Linked DNA regions of Homo sapiens: region 2 is linked to region 1. A link means that fine-mapping ties the variant in region 1 to the expression of a gene that starts in the linked region. Tissue or cell type: whole blood. Region 1 holds a variant in brackets; the other region holds the start of a gene. All regions are shown on one strand. Distances are between the middles of the regions.

Region 1 (8,099 bases):
CCTTTCCCTGTCCCAGCTGCCTTCTTCCTGGGCACTGAAAACGATGCTACCATTGTTTTTTTTTTTTTTTTTGAGACGGAGTCTCGCTCTGTCGCCCAGGCTGGAGTGCAGTGGCGGGATCTCGGCTCACTGCAAGCTCCGCCTCCCGGGTTCACACCATTCTCCTGCCTCAGCCTCCCAAGTAGCTGGGACTACAGGCGCCCGCCACTACGCCCGGCTAATTTTTTGTATTTTTAGTAGAGACGGGGTTTCACCGTTTTAGCCGGGATGGTCTTGATCTCCTGACCTCGTGATCCGCCCGCCTCGGCCTCCCAAAGTGCTGGGATTACAGGCGTGAGCCACCGCGCCCGGCCAAATGCTACCATTGTTAAGTGCCAGGCGTCCCACCATGCGGGTCTTCACTGCGTATCCACGTAGCTGCACCACGCAGGCATTCTTTCCTCCCTTTTGCAGATGATGGCACCAAAGTTCAAGACTCGCCCAGGGCCACCAAGACAGTCCTCTAGACTTTGGTCTTCCCTCCTTGCCTCCTCGGCCTGGGGTGGTGGCGCCTCGGTCTGAGAAGGGTCGAGGTCTGGGTGCTGCTAGTGGCCCTGGCTCAGTCTCAGAGCTGCCCGGAGGGGGTGAGGATGGCTAACTTAAGGAGCACAGGCAGAGGCTTCCTGCTGGCAGGAAGAGGGCTGAGCTGCGGAAGGCCACCCAGGTGGAGTGTGCTGCACCTCCTTCAGTGGCCTTCAGGAGCTCTGTCCTCACCCAGGGATTGGGGTGAGTCAGGGCATGGGGAAACAGGCTCACAGAGCCCACCTGCTCACCCTGACCACCCCACCCCAGGGGACCCCAGGCTCCTAACTCTCAGAATCCCACAGTCTGTATTGGCGGAAGACGGGCTGGCACCCTTGAGTTAGGCCCCCAGTCGTTGGCACAGATAAGGGGAGCTGCTGCTGAAGGAGCCCGACGGCTGATTCTGTGGAGGCTTCTCAGAGCTCCTGGCAGGAGCCCCTCACCGCAGGAGGCCCACAACCCCTCCCAGCTGCATATCGGCTCACATTCACGCGGCTGCCACACAAGTGCGTCGGAAACTCCACTTGGCTGAACGTGATTGTGCTGCTGTCTGGGACAGTCTTATGCACGTGAGCCCAATACTGGATGTCCCGCCATTTTCAGCCCTGGGGCCTATGGCAAAGTGACGCCCCCCTCGGAGTGCACGGCAGGCAAGGAAGGTTTAAACGGAAGTTCTGACCAGGACGATGCTGGGTGCAAGAGGGGACGGGGATGGAGCAAAACAGAAAGGATCCACCAGGGCCTGCAACCACGTCTTTGGCCCCGGTGAGGGGTGGGACCTTGTGTATAGGTCCAGGCAGCAGCAGCTGCAGACAGAGGCCTAGAGGGTTTGGAGAAGGCCGACCACAAAGACACGCCTAGACCCCAGAGTCTAGTGAGGAGAGGGACTGGGGGCAGTGTTTCGGCAGCAGACCCAGACCCAGACTCAGACCCAAGCCCCCCTCCTCACTGATCAAAACCCCAAGGGCAGGGAGCCCTTCCTGCTCCTTCCCGCCAGAGCCTGGAGGATGAGGGGCAGACGGGAGGCCCGGCCACTGGTGCCTGCTCCTTTGATCAGCTGTAGTCCCTTCCCCTTCACAGGGCACTTGTCTTGCTGGTTGGGGTCACCAGGGATTGCTCCCCCAAGTACCCATCAGCCTCCAGGGCCCAAATGATTCCATGCAGTAGCTCTCTCCCCCTCTTCTGAGAAGGCTCTTGGCTCCCAGAAACGGAAACCATGCCTGGGCCTGCTCCCCTTCCTTGGGCTGTGACCCCCCTGCCACAGAGGCCCCCCCCCCGCCACAGAGGTCCCCCCTGCCACAGAGGTCCCCCTGCCACAGAGGCCTGGTGGCCCCTGAGCTGCTGCTCCGAGTGGAATGTCCTGGTCTAGAGGCCCTTGGCTGCTCCAGTGTCTTAAGACCCATATATGAGTGCTGGCTCTGACCTTGAACAAGCTCCTCCATCGCTCCAGGCCTCGTTTTTCAGGTGTATATGATGATAGTATCTCTAGGCCTCGTTTTTCAGTTGTAAAGCAGGGATGATCATATGTGTTTAACTCCCAGATTGTTATCAAGTCAAGGACAACAATAGGAAAACATGTCACCTGTCAGCTCCACACAAGGCAAAGTAGGATGGGTGACCCCTGACTAGGGGGTGGGAGTGCAGGGGGCACCCGACCCATCTGGCCAGCCACAGCCTCTGTACCCTGCTCGCATTTTCAGGCCTCAATCCCCAAGCACTGTTGGCCCTGGACTGTTTCCCCCCCTCAATTCTGTTTCTCAATGCCTGCTTCTTCCCAGTAAGTGCCACACCCTGAGGGTGGGTGGGAGAGTGAGGCAGCACTGCCCACTTTGGCTGGGACTGGGCACTGCTGGGGACAGCACGGGCCACGTCTTCCCCATCTCAAGACTGGCTTTTTGGCTAGGCATTGTGACTCACGCCTGTAATCTCAGCACTTTGGGAGGCTGAGGTGGGAGAATTGCTTCAGCCCAGGAGTTCCAGACCAGCCTGGGCAAAATAGCAAGAATTCATCTTTATGAAAAAGAAAAAAAAAATTAGCCAGGCATGGTGGCACACACTTATAGTCCCAGATACTTAGGAGGCCGAGGTGGGAGGATCCCTTGAGCCCATGAGTTGGAGGCCGTGGTGAGCTATCAGTTGCACCACTGCACTCCAGCCTGGATGGCAGAGCAAGACCCCAACTCAAAAAAAAAAAAAAAAAAAAAAAGGCGGCCTTTTCCCAGCTGGCAGCACCCTGGCTAGTTAGGGTTTCTCCGAATCTGCAACTCCTGTGTGATGGCGGGTCTCAAATGCTGGCAGCAGAGTCACCGGTCAGCGGCAAGACCTGGAGTCTCCATTTGGAACCAGCACCCGGGAGCCTCTGCTGGGGGTGATCATGGAGCCGCACGTGGAGGCTGGTGGCTCTGATGGTTCGAGCCGTTCCTCGGCAGCACAGCACACCCGCTCCTGAGGAGCCACGGAGCTCATGAGCGTTGGCAAAGTGCTGTCAGTGCTGGCTGTAAGGAAACAGGCTTGACTTTTAACTCAGCCTTTCCCAAACTTGACTATAATACTTTCTTGAAAATCAGAATAACCACTAACATCACAAAACGAGTGTTCTCAGGAGTGGGCATGTTTATCTCGTTCTCTTTTTTTTTTTCTTTTTGAGACGGAGCCTCGCTCTGTTGCCCAGGCTGGAGTGCAATGGTGCGATCTCGACTCACGGCAATCTCCGTCTCCCCGGTTCAAGCGATTCTCCTGCCTCAGGCTCCCGAGTAGTTGGGATTACAGGCGCACGCCACCACGCCCGATTAATGTTTATTTTTAGTACAGACGGGGTTTCTCCATGTTGGTCAGGATGGTCTCGAACTCCTGACCTCAGGTGAGCCTCCTGCCTTGGCCTCCCAAAGTGCTGGGATTATAGGCGTGAGCCACCACGCCCAGTCTTTTTTTAAATATTTGAGTGAAATAAAGCCTAGGAGATATGTGTTCCAGGCGCCCAAGCTGTTAATGTGGAGCTTGAATGTGGCCTGGACCTGCCCTTTCCTCTTCTCCTTTCATCCCCCTCCCTGCCGCCCACATCCTGAACTGCTCTGAGCCTGCAGAAGAACCCAGCGGGAATCTTCAGGGTTGTGGAAGGGTGTAGGGATGGAAAGGGACCAGGATTCGCCTGTTTGGCTGGGAAAATCGGTAGAGGAGGGTGGCTCACACTTCTAAGATGTCTGCACAAGCCCAGTTTGTTTGGGGGTTGGGGAGGAAGGTCTTTTCCTGGCCCACTGTCCCTCCCGAGTCAGCAGTCCCCCAGAGAGACGAAGAGCAGCTGGGCACGGCTGGAGCTGGTCGGTGGCAGAGAATCTTGTCCTGCCTTTTCTTCTCAAGCTCAAAATAGGCACATGCAGCTATTAACTGATATGCCAGAAGGGGCATCCCTTACCCGGAGGAAAATGGATTTATTGCTTTATAAAAAAGAAGTCTAATAAAACTGAAGAGAAAATAACTAAAAATCCAAACACAACTCACCCCTCTAAGCACGCCCAGGAGGTCTCAAGACACACTTCTGGGGGCAGTCAAGGTGGGCGGGTTGGTGGGCCAGGCGGACGGGCCTCCCCCGTCATCAGCTCCAGGGCCCCACGGAGCCCGCCGGCAGGGGGTGCTGTGGGCCTGTGGCCTTGGACAAGCTCCTGGCCCCACGCCAGGATGGCTCCTGGGCACTGGCCCAGCTGCAGGCCTGGCGGCTCCCGCCTGGTCAGTGGGGATAAGGGCTAACTCCTAGAGCCCACCCCGACCCCACACACACCTCGGACCCACCCACGTCCCCACCCCGGCCTGGACCTCCACGTCTGCCGGCCACAGCCTTTCGTCCACCTCCACAAAAGCAGCTGTGTGTATGTACGGGGTGCCCTGGCGGCGGTCCTCAAATTCCCTTCAGGTGGCAGACAGAACGAGGGTGACAGTGAAAACGTGT[C/T]CGCGGCATTGGCCCTCGGGGAGGAGGCGAGGGGTCCACCCAGCCCGCTAAACCCTCTCCAGGGCATAAGCCAGGTGGGGCTTCTCCACCGGCCTCCAACGGGTGGGCAGGCCCTGGACAGGCGACAGGGGGCTGGAATTACAAAGGAATTAGCACCGACAACAGGAAGCGGGTCCTTCCTTCCTCAGGCAGCCTCAGGCTGGCCGGGGAGGGGGTGGGGGCCAGGCGCGGGCGAGACAGTGCAAGCCTTTGTCCTCAGGCAGGTACGGCTGTGGGCATGCAGCCGAGGGGCAGGTGGCAGGCAGGGGATGGCAGCCCCCTCTGCTTTGGCAAGAGGCAGAATCCAGACACTGGCGGGAGAGCGCCTGCCTGCCGGGCGTTCCTGGCTCCTGCTGCAGGCACCACAGAGACCCCAGGCCCCGGGTCCCCGGGGGGCGGCAGAGCAAAGTCAGGGCAGCCCCTGCGTTCGGCAGGAGAAAACGCGCGTGTCCGGGGCCCTCTCCCGTCCTTCCACCACAGAGCTCCGAGGCAGGGCCCCGGGAGGGAGCGTGAACGCTGGCACGGAGACGGCGAAGGTCCTGGGGGTGCGTGGGGTACTCTGGAGGGGCAGGACAGGGGTCAGTCACTGAAGCACAGGCAGGAGACCGCAGTTCCGAGGCGGCAGCCACTACACGAAGGCCTCCTGGTTGGACGAGCCGTTGATTTTGAGGAAGAGTTTGTCATCCTCCTGCCTCTGCTGCAGCTGCCGCTCCAGCTGGCGCCGGTAGCAGATCAGGTAGAGCGGGAGGCAGAAGCCCAGCAGGCTGAGAAGGAGCAGCCCCACGTTCACCTGGGGAGGCAGGGAGGCCGCGCATCACAGGGCGTGGTGGTGCGCCGAGGCTGCAGACCCGCCCTCCACTCGGGTTTGGGAAAGGGGAGAAGGTCACGGGGTGGAAGGGGGAACGAAACAGGAAGGCCCACGAGGTCCCATATGCCAGCGTCCCGGTTCCCAACTCTTCACAGGCCATGTGGCCACCCTCAGGGCCTGGGCCCCCAGGAAACACGGGCTGATCTGAACCTCTGGGCTTGGAACAAGTTCCTGGTACCTGGTGAGGAAATCTGGCCCTCGGAGGTGGGGCGGGGACAGGAACTGTGTTCTTTTTTTTTTTTTTTTTTTTTTTTTGAGACGAAGTCTCGCGCTGTCGTCATTCAGGCTGGAGTGCAGTGGCGCAATCTCAGCTCACTGCAATCTCCGCCTCCCGGGTTCAAGTGATTCTCCTGTCTCAGCCTCCCGAGTATCTGGGATTACAGGCACCTGCCACCACACCTGGCTAATTTTTGTATTTTTAGTAGAGACCTGGTTTCACCATGTTGGCCAGGCTGGTCTTGAACTCCTGACCTCAAGTGATGCTCCCGCCTCGGCCTCTCAAAGTGCTGGGATTACAGGTGTGAGCCACCGCGCCCGGCCCAGGAACTCTGTTCTATTTCTCCCCAAATCAGGTCCAGAGAGGACATGTTCCTTTTCCTGCCTAGCCACCATTCACAAAGGGACTCTTAACCAATCCTAACCAACGCTCCCACATGTCCTCGGGGCCCTGAAGCCCCCGAGGGGGACCTTGCAGCTCGCAGTTAGCAGAAGGGGGCAGGCGCCCATGACCCACCATCCCCCGACCCCTCTTACCCACAGAGGGTCTCCCTGGAGAGGACCCATCATGGCCAGAAACAGCGGCTGCTGCAGAAGGGCGAAGAGCGCGCTGATCAGAGACTGCAGTCCCGTGAGGCTGCCGAACTGGGTGGAGGGGTACCTGCAGGGCAAGCGACAGCTCACAGCCATCCTGCCTCCTGGGCTTTGCTTGGCCCCAGGTGTCTGGTGACCCCGGGCTGCACCGTTGGTGCCAGAGAAGGGTGGGGTGCCAGCCCTCGGATTCCTTCCTGCTGGGCAGTTCTGTTTTTTTTTTTTTTTTTTTAAGATGGAGTCTTGCACTGTCGCCTGGGCTGGAGTGCAATGACACGATCTCGGCTCACTGCAACCTCCGCCTCCCCAGTCCAAACAATTCTCCTGCCTCAGCCTCCCTAGTAGCTGGGATTACAGGCGCCCGCCACCACATCTGGCTAATTTTTTGTATTTTTAGTAGAGACGGGGTTTCACTACGTTGGCCAGGCTGGTCTCAAACTCCTGACCTTGTGATCTGCCTGCCTCGGCCTCCCAAAGTTCTGGGATTACAGGCGTGAGCCACCGCGCCCGGCCCTGCTGGGTGGTTCTGCAAAGTGTTTCTCTTTGGACCAGCTCCAGGCCCCAGACTCTGGGGAGGGCCCACCCCACTCAGCTGTGCCCAGGGCCTGTGGGTGTCTGGCTGAGCCGAGTGGAAAGCGTGGTGCCAGCGGGGACCTGCGGTTTGGGAAACAGGCCCAGAGAGGAGTGTGGAGGCTGGGCTTGGCTCTGCAGTGCCCTCGTCCAGAGAAGCATTGAGTAATCGCGGAAACTCAGCACCACAGATCCCGCCCCCCTCCCTCAGACCCTGCCAGGACAGCCACAGCTTCCTCCAGGCCTGGGGAGGGGCAGGCGGAGGGCAAGCGGAGCTGGGATTACCCCAGGGGCTGTTGCGGGAATTGGGAGAGAGTTCCGGGCTAAATCTTAGCACATGTCAGGCTCTGCTGGCCCAGAGGTGGGAAAGGAATCCCAGCAACACATGAGCTGGTCCCACATCAGAGACTGTGGATGATGATGTTTGAGTTTCAGTTTTTGGGTCAAGGCCTGAGCCAGAGAAGAAGGAACCACTGTGGTTCCTTTTATGTTTCTGGGGCTTCTTGGAAAAAGATACAGGTTTCATTTTAGCCAGGGCTGGAGAAAGCTATGGCCAGAGCTGGGCGCACTGAGGCTCTGGATGGGCCCGTCTGGTGTATTCTGGACTCAGTCACCCATGTTGCTGCCCGTGATGAGGGCAACTGGAACTTCCGCATTTAGCTTCAGGCAGCCAGAACCTACCCATCCTTCCCAGTGAGCAGCCAGGGCCAGCCCCAGGACTCGGCTGTAGTGGCCCCTGAGGCCATAATGAGCTGCACAGGTGCCTGACCCTGGCTGGGGGAACTGACTTCGTGTTGAATGCCAAGGCTTGTGAGCACCCAACTGTCTGCCCACTGACCTGCTTCCCACGAGGTATGGCCTTTCCCTGAAACACCCAGCAGAAACCCTGGTACCTGTCCCCTGAAGCAGGAAGATGAGCCCTTCTGGGACAGGCTGACCCTGCCTCAGAGTCTCAGTCCCACCAGCAACCTCCCCCCGGCCATTCCCACACCCTCGCCCACCAGGCCACCTGCGGCTTCCAGGACTTACACGGCAGCGTACAGGCCCCCGACAGCGGAGTGGATGAATCCTCGCACGATTGTGTGCAGGATGAAGGAGAGGATCTGGGGGAGGAAAAGGCGACTGTGGGCATAAGGCCTTAAGGGACCGTCCCCTCAGCCCCCGCCCTCCAATTCCTGGGGGCCCTCACCCCAGGGGCAGTGTCAGCCTGGAGTTGGATCAACCCCATCCTCCGGAGCCAATTGTGAATTTTCAGAAATTTTGCAAGCCAGTCGTTAACACAGTCATTTTTTGTTTGTTTGTTTGTTTTGT
Region 2 (8,099 bases), 54 kb after region 1:
TACTGAATGTTTAGGTTACAAGAAAGAGGGGATTAACGATCCACATGTAGGCCTGGAGCGGTGGCTCACGCCTATAATCCCAGCAATGTGGGAGCCCGAGGTGGGTGGATCGACTGAGCCCAGGAGTTCAAGACCAGCCTGGGCAACATGGTGAAACCCCTATCTCTACAAAACATTTAAAAATTAACTGGGTATGGTGGCTTACACCTGTAGTCCCAGCACTTTGGGAGGCTGAGGCTGGTGGATCACTTGAGCCCAGGAGTTTTGAGACCAGCCTGAGCAACGTGATGAAACCCTCATCTCTACAAAAAATTTGACCGGGCGTGGTGGCTCACACCTGTAATCCCAGTGCTTTGGGAGGCCAAGGCGGGTGGATCACCTGAGGTCAGGAGTTCGAGACCAGCCAGGCCAACATGGTAAAACCACATCTCTACTAAAAAATACAAAAATTAGCCGGGCGTGGTGGTGGGCACCTGTAATCCCAAAAACAAAAACAAAAAACTAACTGGGTTTGATGGCTCATGCTTGCAGGCCCAGCACTTTGGAAGGCTGAGGCAGGAGGATCGCTTGAGCCCAGGAGTTTGAGACCAGCCTAGGCAACATGGCGAGACCCTGTCTCTACAAAAAATACAAAAATTAGCTGAGTATGGTGGCGCACACTTGTAGTCCCAGCTACTGCTACTCGGGAGGCTGAGGCGGGAGGATTGCTTGAGCCCAGGAGTCAAGGCCGCAGTGAGCTGTGATTGCAACACTACATTCCAGACTGGGCAACAGAGCGAGACCCTGTCTCAAATAAAAAAAAACCATCCACAGGTAGCCGCAGCCCCCCAGGCTGACCCTGACCCTGTTGAAGCGGGGGCCACTGGACAACAGAGAAAACGAAGAAAGAGCTCAGGAGTGGGCCGTCACGTTGCCATCCCAGAGGCCAAGAGGACACAGCTCCAGGAAGCCCCGTGCTTCTCGGGCTGAGAACCCAACTGGTCTCCTGCCCTCACCAGGGGGACGAGGGAGGCATCCAGCAGCCAACACCTGGAGGACGTTGTGCAAAACCCATTGCCAACTTCCCGCACCCAGGTCCCCAAACCCAGCCTGCCACGTCTCCCAGCAGGCAAGGAAGAACAAACTGCGGGGCAGCCGAGAAATGAGCTGTTTCCTTCCTTCTGCCACCTCACCAGGCTGGAACCCAACACGGTGTCTGTGGCGAGATTCTGGCTGGAGTCGTAAGAAAGAGTTCTAAGAACCTTTCAACAGGTTCAGGCAAATTTTCTTTAGAGAACAAACTAAAGCATCGTCCTAGAGTGACACGAAGCTGACAAATTTGCATCTCAATCAGCCGGACACTGCTCAGGCTTTCACAAGTCTAATTCAATAAATTCAAAAATGGCCTATCTGCTTCTCTGCAATTCAGCCATGCACCAAGTTTGAAAATGTTAGACTGAAGCAGAAACCTTCACCCTAACTTCGCCAGGCACTCCCAGACGAGCCAAATGCGGGGATTTCTGGCCTGAAAGAAAACTGGTGATGCAGACTCCAAGAATCAAGGAGCAGTGTGACCAGAGAGATAAGCTGTGTGGAATCAGCAGCCTTCCCGCCCAGAACGTGGGCTCAGCATGTTTGCCAGATAATAAGAAAAACCAAAATTGGAGGCAGGAGCAAAAGTTCGGGATAAGAAGTTGATGTTCAACCCACAATCCTGACCCTTCACCTTCACTTTGGTTTAGTGGAGTTACCTGTCAAGTCTGCCCAGGGCTTAAAACACCAACTCAGCACTGCGCTGGCACAATCTCTGGGACTCCTCCCACTTAGACAGAGGAGGAAGCTGAGGTTGAGGCAGGAATGAAAGGACCAGACCCAATTCTGCCAAAACCATACAATCAATTAAATCCGTGGACATTCTATTAAAAAAAAACAAAAAACAAAAAACAAACAAAAAACACCTAGAATCTGACCTTCCGACATCATGGTGGGTTAAAAAAAAAACACACAAAAAAACACCTGCCCACAACAGTTCTCTGGTCTGGGTGAGACACTAAAAGCTTTCTCTGGGGACGATGACTTTTTTTCTGCTTTTTTTTTTTTTTTTTAAACCCTGTGTCCAGCCTGAAAGAGCCCACCAGGGAGGCAAGCAGGAAGGGTCACGATCTCTAAGGGGGGAGAGAGGAAAGGAGAGGAAGAAGTAAACACTCCAACCTGTGCCTTTCGGGGACAGGCATTAATCTCCTAACAACTCTTGGCCAAAGCAGAAAGCTTGTTCAGGGAACAAGGTCTGACTCTTCCCAACTCCCAAGATTTCTTGCTGATGTGGGGAAAGACCTGCCAAGAACCCTTAGGCTATTAGGAAATATTTTTGAGTGGCTAAAGGCTAAAGGTTAGTTATAAATGATATACTTTCTGTCCTCTCCCCGCGGCCTCTGCATTCTCCTGCTTTCTCCTGCCCTGAACCTCTCCAGCTAAGCCTCCCTCCCTAGAGACTGGGACACACAGGAATCTCCGGGGCAGATCAGAGAAGGGAAACAGGGAGGCTTCCACAAAGGATTACACCCAGCATGAGCTGGTCCAAAGCTTTCTCTTCCTGCAAAGAGCTCTAGAAAGAAAAGGCCTGCTGCTGGGGATTCAGGAAGTCAAACCTGGGCTACCTCCATCTAAGGGCACTCTAGCACTGGCGACAGGGATTATGTGAGCTCAGCTATTATGCAGCTACCGTTGGGATCAAGGAGAAGGCAGAGGGAAAATTTCCTGTCAAGGTTGCCTAAGAAGGAGGGTAGGAGGCTAGAGGCTGGGGGCTGCTGTGGCCCTCCTGTGGGGCTGAATTTACTGCCCTGTAGTCATCAGGACCCTCCAACAGGGTATGAAGGTGTGAAGGTAAGTGTGTGTTGGGTGGTGCAGATGTCATGTAGAGAAGCATCCTCAGCCTGCCTTCAGCAATTCCAGTGACAAGGCAAAGAGGAGAGAACAACCCTAGCATCATTTCCATAAACGTTCCTTTCTTCTCTTCCCCTTCATCCCCATGGGGTTGGAAAGCCACGGAGATGTCCTCAGAGCCCGTGGGGGAAATGTCCTTTGGAGAATCATAAGGCAGCAAAAATAGACAAGAAATTGTGTCCAGCAAGCACTTAGGAGACTCCACAATGGCCTGAGGAACGTCTAGATTCTAGATGAGCCCTCCCTGGGGTGGAGGCAAGGCCACTTCCTCTCCTGCTGCACCCCAGCCCCTTAATCTGGAGTTCCTCTTTCTCACAAGCAGACAGCAACATGTTTACTACCAGCCAAGCTATGTTCCAGGGCTGGGAGGAGAGGAGAGCAGTCCAGCACTGTTCGTAGCGGGTGGAAGGAACACCCTGGACAGCAGGTGGGGTTCTGGGTGGATGGCAGGCCCAGGCTCTGCGGCCTTGCGCAAGACAGATCGCTCTGAGCCTCGATGTCTTCGTCCACAAAACAGGGGCAATGACAAGTACCCGGCAGGGCTGGGTGAGGATCAGATGGGCCTTCTGATACCCTAGAGGCACTGGGCAATGCGGTGCTGTGGCTCGCTAGGTCTTCGCCCCCATCCCGCCCCCTCCCAAAGCCCCAGCTCCAGGAGCCCCCCGCAACCCCAGGCGCTTGTCTCACCTGGCTCGGTACACAGGTAGGAGTAAAAGCCCTCTGACTTGAGCATGATGAGCAGCGAGCCCCAGCCCAGGAGGACTGCCGAGAAGAGGAGGTTCTCCAGCACGGCCGTGCAGGCCATCCACCAGCGGCGCCGATGGGCAGTGGCCAGGGTGGGCGCCATGGTGCGGCGCGGCGCGGCTCCGGCTCCGGCTCCGGCTCTGCACCACCTGCGCACAGAACTCGGCGTCAGCGGCCGGCCCTTGCCCAGCCCCTGCGGCCGCCCCCAGCAGCCCCGACCGCTGCCGCAGGGCTCGGGATTGCCACCCCTCCCCGGCCGCGGCGGCCGGTGCGCGCAGCAGAGGAAGCGAACCCCAGCCCTGCCCGGACCTGGGACACCCCGAGCCCGCGGCCGGCTCGTACCGCTGCCCTCCGCTACGACAGAGCCGCCCCGGCCAGGCAGGGAGACGTCTCCCGCAGCTCACTCCGAGGTAAACTGAGGCATGGAGGCAAGAAGGGGCTAACGCATGCTCAGGGCCGTGGAACTAGTCCTGGCCTGCAGCAGGACTGACATCGCCTGGGGCCAGCATGGAACGCAGCGTGAGGTGGGCAGGGGCAGATCCGAGGGCTGCCTCTCCCAGGGACCCTGACAGGTGCCCTCCCGCCCGCGCCCGAGACCCTTCCCCAGAGCTGGTTTCTTCAACCACAAGATCAGCGCCCAGACCTACGGAACGGCCCGCCCCGGCGCGCTCATTGGCCGGACGGCGCAGGAACTGCCGCGCCATTGGCCGCCGTCTAGGTCGCTAGGCGCTGCGGCCACGCGAACCCAGCGTGGGAGACGAGGAGCCGGTTCAAACCGGTGGCGCGAGCCAGCCGCGCGACCCCCATCTCGGGCGTTCCCCCGGCAACTCGCCCGTTTCCATGGCCTCGGACCCCCGCGCCTCCATTCCCCAGCCCGCATCTGTTCGTCATCTCTTCCCTGGCGGCCCCTCATCGCTCCATCTCTCTCCTCGTTCCCACGTTTTCTCCCTACGCCCCTTCGGCGGCCGCTTCTGCCCCCGCGCCCTCGCCCCGGCCGCGATCCCCTCCCTGCTGCAGCTCACCCGGCTCCTCCGGCGTGTGTCGGGCCCGCCCGGCGCCTTTTCTGCCCTCTTTTATTCCAGCCCTTTTATTCCGACCCCAAGAAGAAAACACTGCCGCCCGCTGATTGGCTGAGCGGGGCTGGAAACAGGCGTCGACCAATCAGCAGCCAGCCCCCCGCCCGCCCCGCCGCGAGCAGAAGCCGGTTCCGGCCGGACTCGGAGACAAACAAGAGAGATGGGGGACGGGAGGGGCCTGGGCGCTGCGGGCCGGGCCTCGGCTTTGCAGCCTTCAACCCGAGTCACAGCGCGGCCGGGAATCCCCGGCGACATCGCCCCGCGGCCTCTCCAGCGGCCTGACCCTGCGAGGCTGGGGCTCCGGCTCCGCGTCCCGGCCCCCAGCGGACTCCCCCCAGAAGCCGCCGGGCCACCAGCGCCCCCAGCCGGGCTCTCCCGCGGCCGCCCCGCCGTCCCCAGCTGCCCCCTGCGCGCGGGTCACCACGCCCAGATGCGCCGGCTCCGCACGGTGGTTCCACTCTCGAATCCCCACCCCGCCTCCTCCCCACGCAGCGCCGCCGTCCCCGCCGCCTCGGGCTTTGGGTCCTGGTTCCTCGCTCCCCCGCCCCGGTGGTTCCCGTCCCGGCGTATTCGGGGCCTGGGATCCCGGACCCGGTCCAGCCGTGGCGCCCCCCGCTGATGCACCGACCCCTTCCCCTCTCCCCGGTGGCGTCTGCCCGGTCCCTGGAAGTTGGCCCTTGGAAATCTGCAAGGGGATTTGGGGCTGGTCTGTCCCGTCCTAGGATGGGGTCTCCTGAGCTCCCCCCATCAGACTGACCTTTCTCCGCCCGTGTTCACGCACTGCTCGGTCCTCCGGGGACCCTCCACCCTTGATCGTCATCTGGGTGCTCCCTGCCCGCGCTGGCCACCTTCACCCCGTTCCCCGTCCCTTTCAGGGAAGGTCCCCTCTGCAGGGCGATGCTACGGGCCACGTCCGCCAGCTGGTACAAGCTAGGGAGGGTTCGAGGGGGCTCCGGGTCCCCGTCTGATAAGCCCGGGCTCCGAAAGCTCAGCTCCCCGTCTTCGTCCCCCGGATTCGAGGCACTAACCCGACCCGGGAAGACCCTCTGACTGCCCCAGAATCGCCTTGGTCACCCTGGCTCGCTCCGGGGGGCTGGCTTAGCACCCCAGGGCTGCCGCGCGGTGTCCACGTCTGGAATCCCAGCGGTTTGGGAGGCTAAGGTCGGAGGGCCACTTGGGGACAGGAGTTTGAGACCAGCCTGGGCAGCATGGCGAGAACCATCTCTACCAAAATAAAAACCAAAAATAAAACCCCACCACCACCCCAGGGCTGTGGGAGCCCCAAACGCCTCTTGCTCCACCTGCCCCAGTCCGAGTGTGCCCCCTACTGTCTAGAATCCGCCCGGGCCACCTGGCGAGGGCAACCTCCCCCAGACAACGCTTGGAGCTGTCAGCCTGCTGGGGGGCGGCTCCAGCTGGTAGCCTACCCGGTTCCTCACCCTGTGGAACCCTTCCCACTCCCAAGGTTTCAACTGCCATCTGAAAAATCTCTTTCTTCACCCTTCCCTCCTCTTTGAGCAGCCTGACGGCGCTGCAGGGCTCAAACATGCCTCAAATATCCCCCAGAACTGTCCTCCACATTTTCTCTCAGATAACCATACTACTACTGTCTACTGAAGTTAGATACCAAGAACCCTGTCTTTTTTCTTTTTCTTTTTTTTTTTTTTTTTTTGAGACAGGATCTCAGGCACCCAGACTGCTGGAGTGTGGTGGCATGATCATAGCTCACTGCAGCCTCGACCTCCTGGGCTTAGGTGATCCTCCTGCCTCAGCCTCCCAAGTAGCTGGGACCACAGGTGCATGCTACCACACTTGGCTAATTTTTGTATTTTTTGTACAGATAGGGTCTTGCCCTGTTGCCCAGGCTGGTCTTGAAGTCTTGGGCTCAAGTGATCCTCCCACCTCAGCCTCCCAAAGTGCAGGGATTACAGGCATGACTCACAGTGCCCTGCTGAGAACCATCCTTTCATCAGACATTTGTTAGGCAGTCGCTGTGATTCTGCCTCTCCCTCACCGCATCCCCATCAAACTGATACAGCTGTATCTCCTACATATTTACCTAATCGGTCCATCTGTGCCCTTAGGCCCGCAACTACTGTTGTTGAGCCACCTTCAGATTTCAGTTCCTCAAATCCAGCCCCCATCTCATCCCAGGGCACTAAGGGAAATGTAAATGTGACTTCTGCCAAAATCCTTCAGAAACTATTATTTGTAAAACAGGATAAAGTTCCAGTTCCTGGCTGGGCACGGTGGCTCACACCTGTAATACCAGCACTTCGGGAGGCTGAGGCGGGCAGATCACTTGAGGTCAGGAGTTAAAGACCAGCCTGGCCAACATGGTGAAACCCTGTCTCTACTAAAAATACAAAAATGGCTGGGCGCGGTGGCTCACGCCTGTAATCCCAGCACTTTGGGAGGCCGAGGTGGGCAGATCACAAGATCAGGAGTACGATACCAGTCTGGCCAAGATGGTGAAACCCTGTCTCTACTAAAGAAACAAAAAATTAGCTGGGTGTGGTGGCGCACACCTGTAATCCCGGCTACTCTGGAGGCTGAGGCAGGAGAATCACTTGAACCTGGGAGGCGGAAGTTGAAGTGAGCCGAGATCGTGCCACTGCACTCCAGCCTGGGCAACAAGAGCGAAACTTTGTCTGAAAAGAAAAAAAAAAAAAAAGATCTGGGTGATGTGGCACACGCCTGTAATCCCAGCTACCTGGGAGGCTGAGGCAGGAGAATTGCTTGAGCTGGGGAGGCAGAGGTTGCGGTGAGCAGAGATTGTGCCACTGTACTCCAGCCTGGGCAACAAAGCGAGACTCCGTCTCAAAAAAATAAACAAAATTTAAAAGTTCCAGTTCCCCAATTTGACCCACACAGGCTCCTCCCTCTCCCTCCCTCTGAAGGACATCTGACCTGCCTGGTCCCCGATGCTCCAGTCACATGGAATTGCCTGTGGTTTCTGCACCTGCTGTTCTCTCTCCTCTAGCTCGCGACATAGCCTCATTTTGGACGGCACCTCCGCTGGGAAGCCTTCCCTAACCACTCCCCATTAATACTGTTCACTTTATTTGTCCACTGCTGGCATTGTTTTATAATTAGCTATTCGTCTGTTTGCCTTCCTCTCTAATTGACTATGAACTCTTTGGGGGCAGGACGGTGTCTTATTCAACTTTGTATGACCAGCCCTTGATAGAGAAGCAAGCACAAAGCAGTTGCACAATATGAGTTTGTGGAATGAAAACATGAACTCCTGAAAAGGGGCAAATGGCCAGGTGCGGTGGCTCACACCTGGAATCCCAGCACTTTGGGAGGCTGAGGTGGGTGGATCACCTGAGGTCAGGAGTTCGAGACCAGCCTGGC

What was found. PIP is the estimated chance that this variant, and not a neighbour inherited with it, causes the effect.
Region 2: SLC43A2 starts here. The variant in region 1 is fine-mapped to the expression of SLC43A2 in whole blood (TOPMed, PIP above 0.99).

Annotation. Positions count from the first base shown.
Region 1 is chr17:1,570,433-1,578,531 of GRCh38, forward strand. It overlaps SLC43A2 (solute carrier family 43 member 2), which reads right to left. Exons shown (of 14, transcript NM_152346.3): 12 at 7,818-7,891; 13 at 6,165-6,288; 14 at 1-5,333. The coding sequence ends at 5,172. Among named protein-coding and RNA genes, the nearest start is that of PITPNA, 12 kb to the left of the region's middle. RefSeq lists enhancers at 993-1,828, 5,084-5,896, 5,897-6,708, 6,709-7,520, 7,521-8,099. The variant C/T (reference allele first, on the strand shown) is at 4,505.
Region 2 is chr17:1,624,106-1,632,204 of GRCh38, forward strand. It overlaps SLC43A2 (solute carrier family 43 member 2), which reads right to left and starts at 4,729. Exons shown (of 14, transcript NM_152346.3): 1 at 4,689-4,729; 2 at 3,610-3,815. The coding sequence starts at 3,769. RefSeq lists enhancers at 2,902-3,439, 3,440-3,977.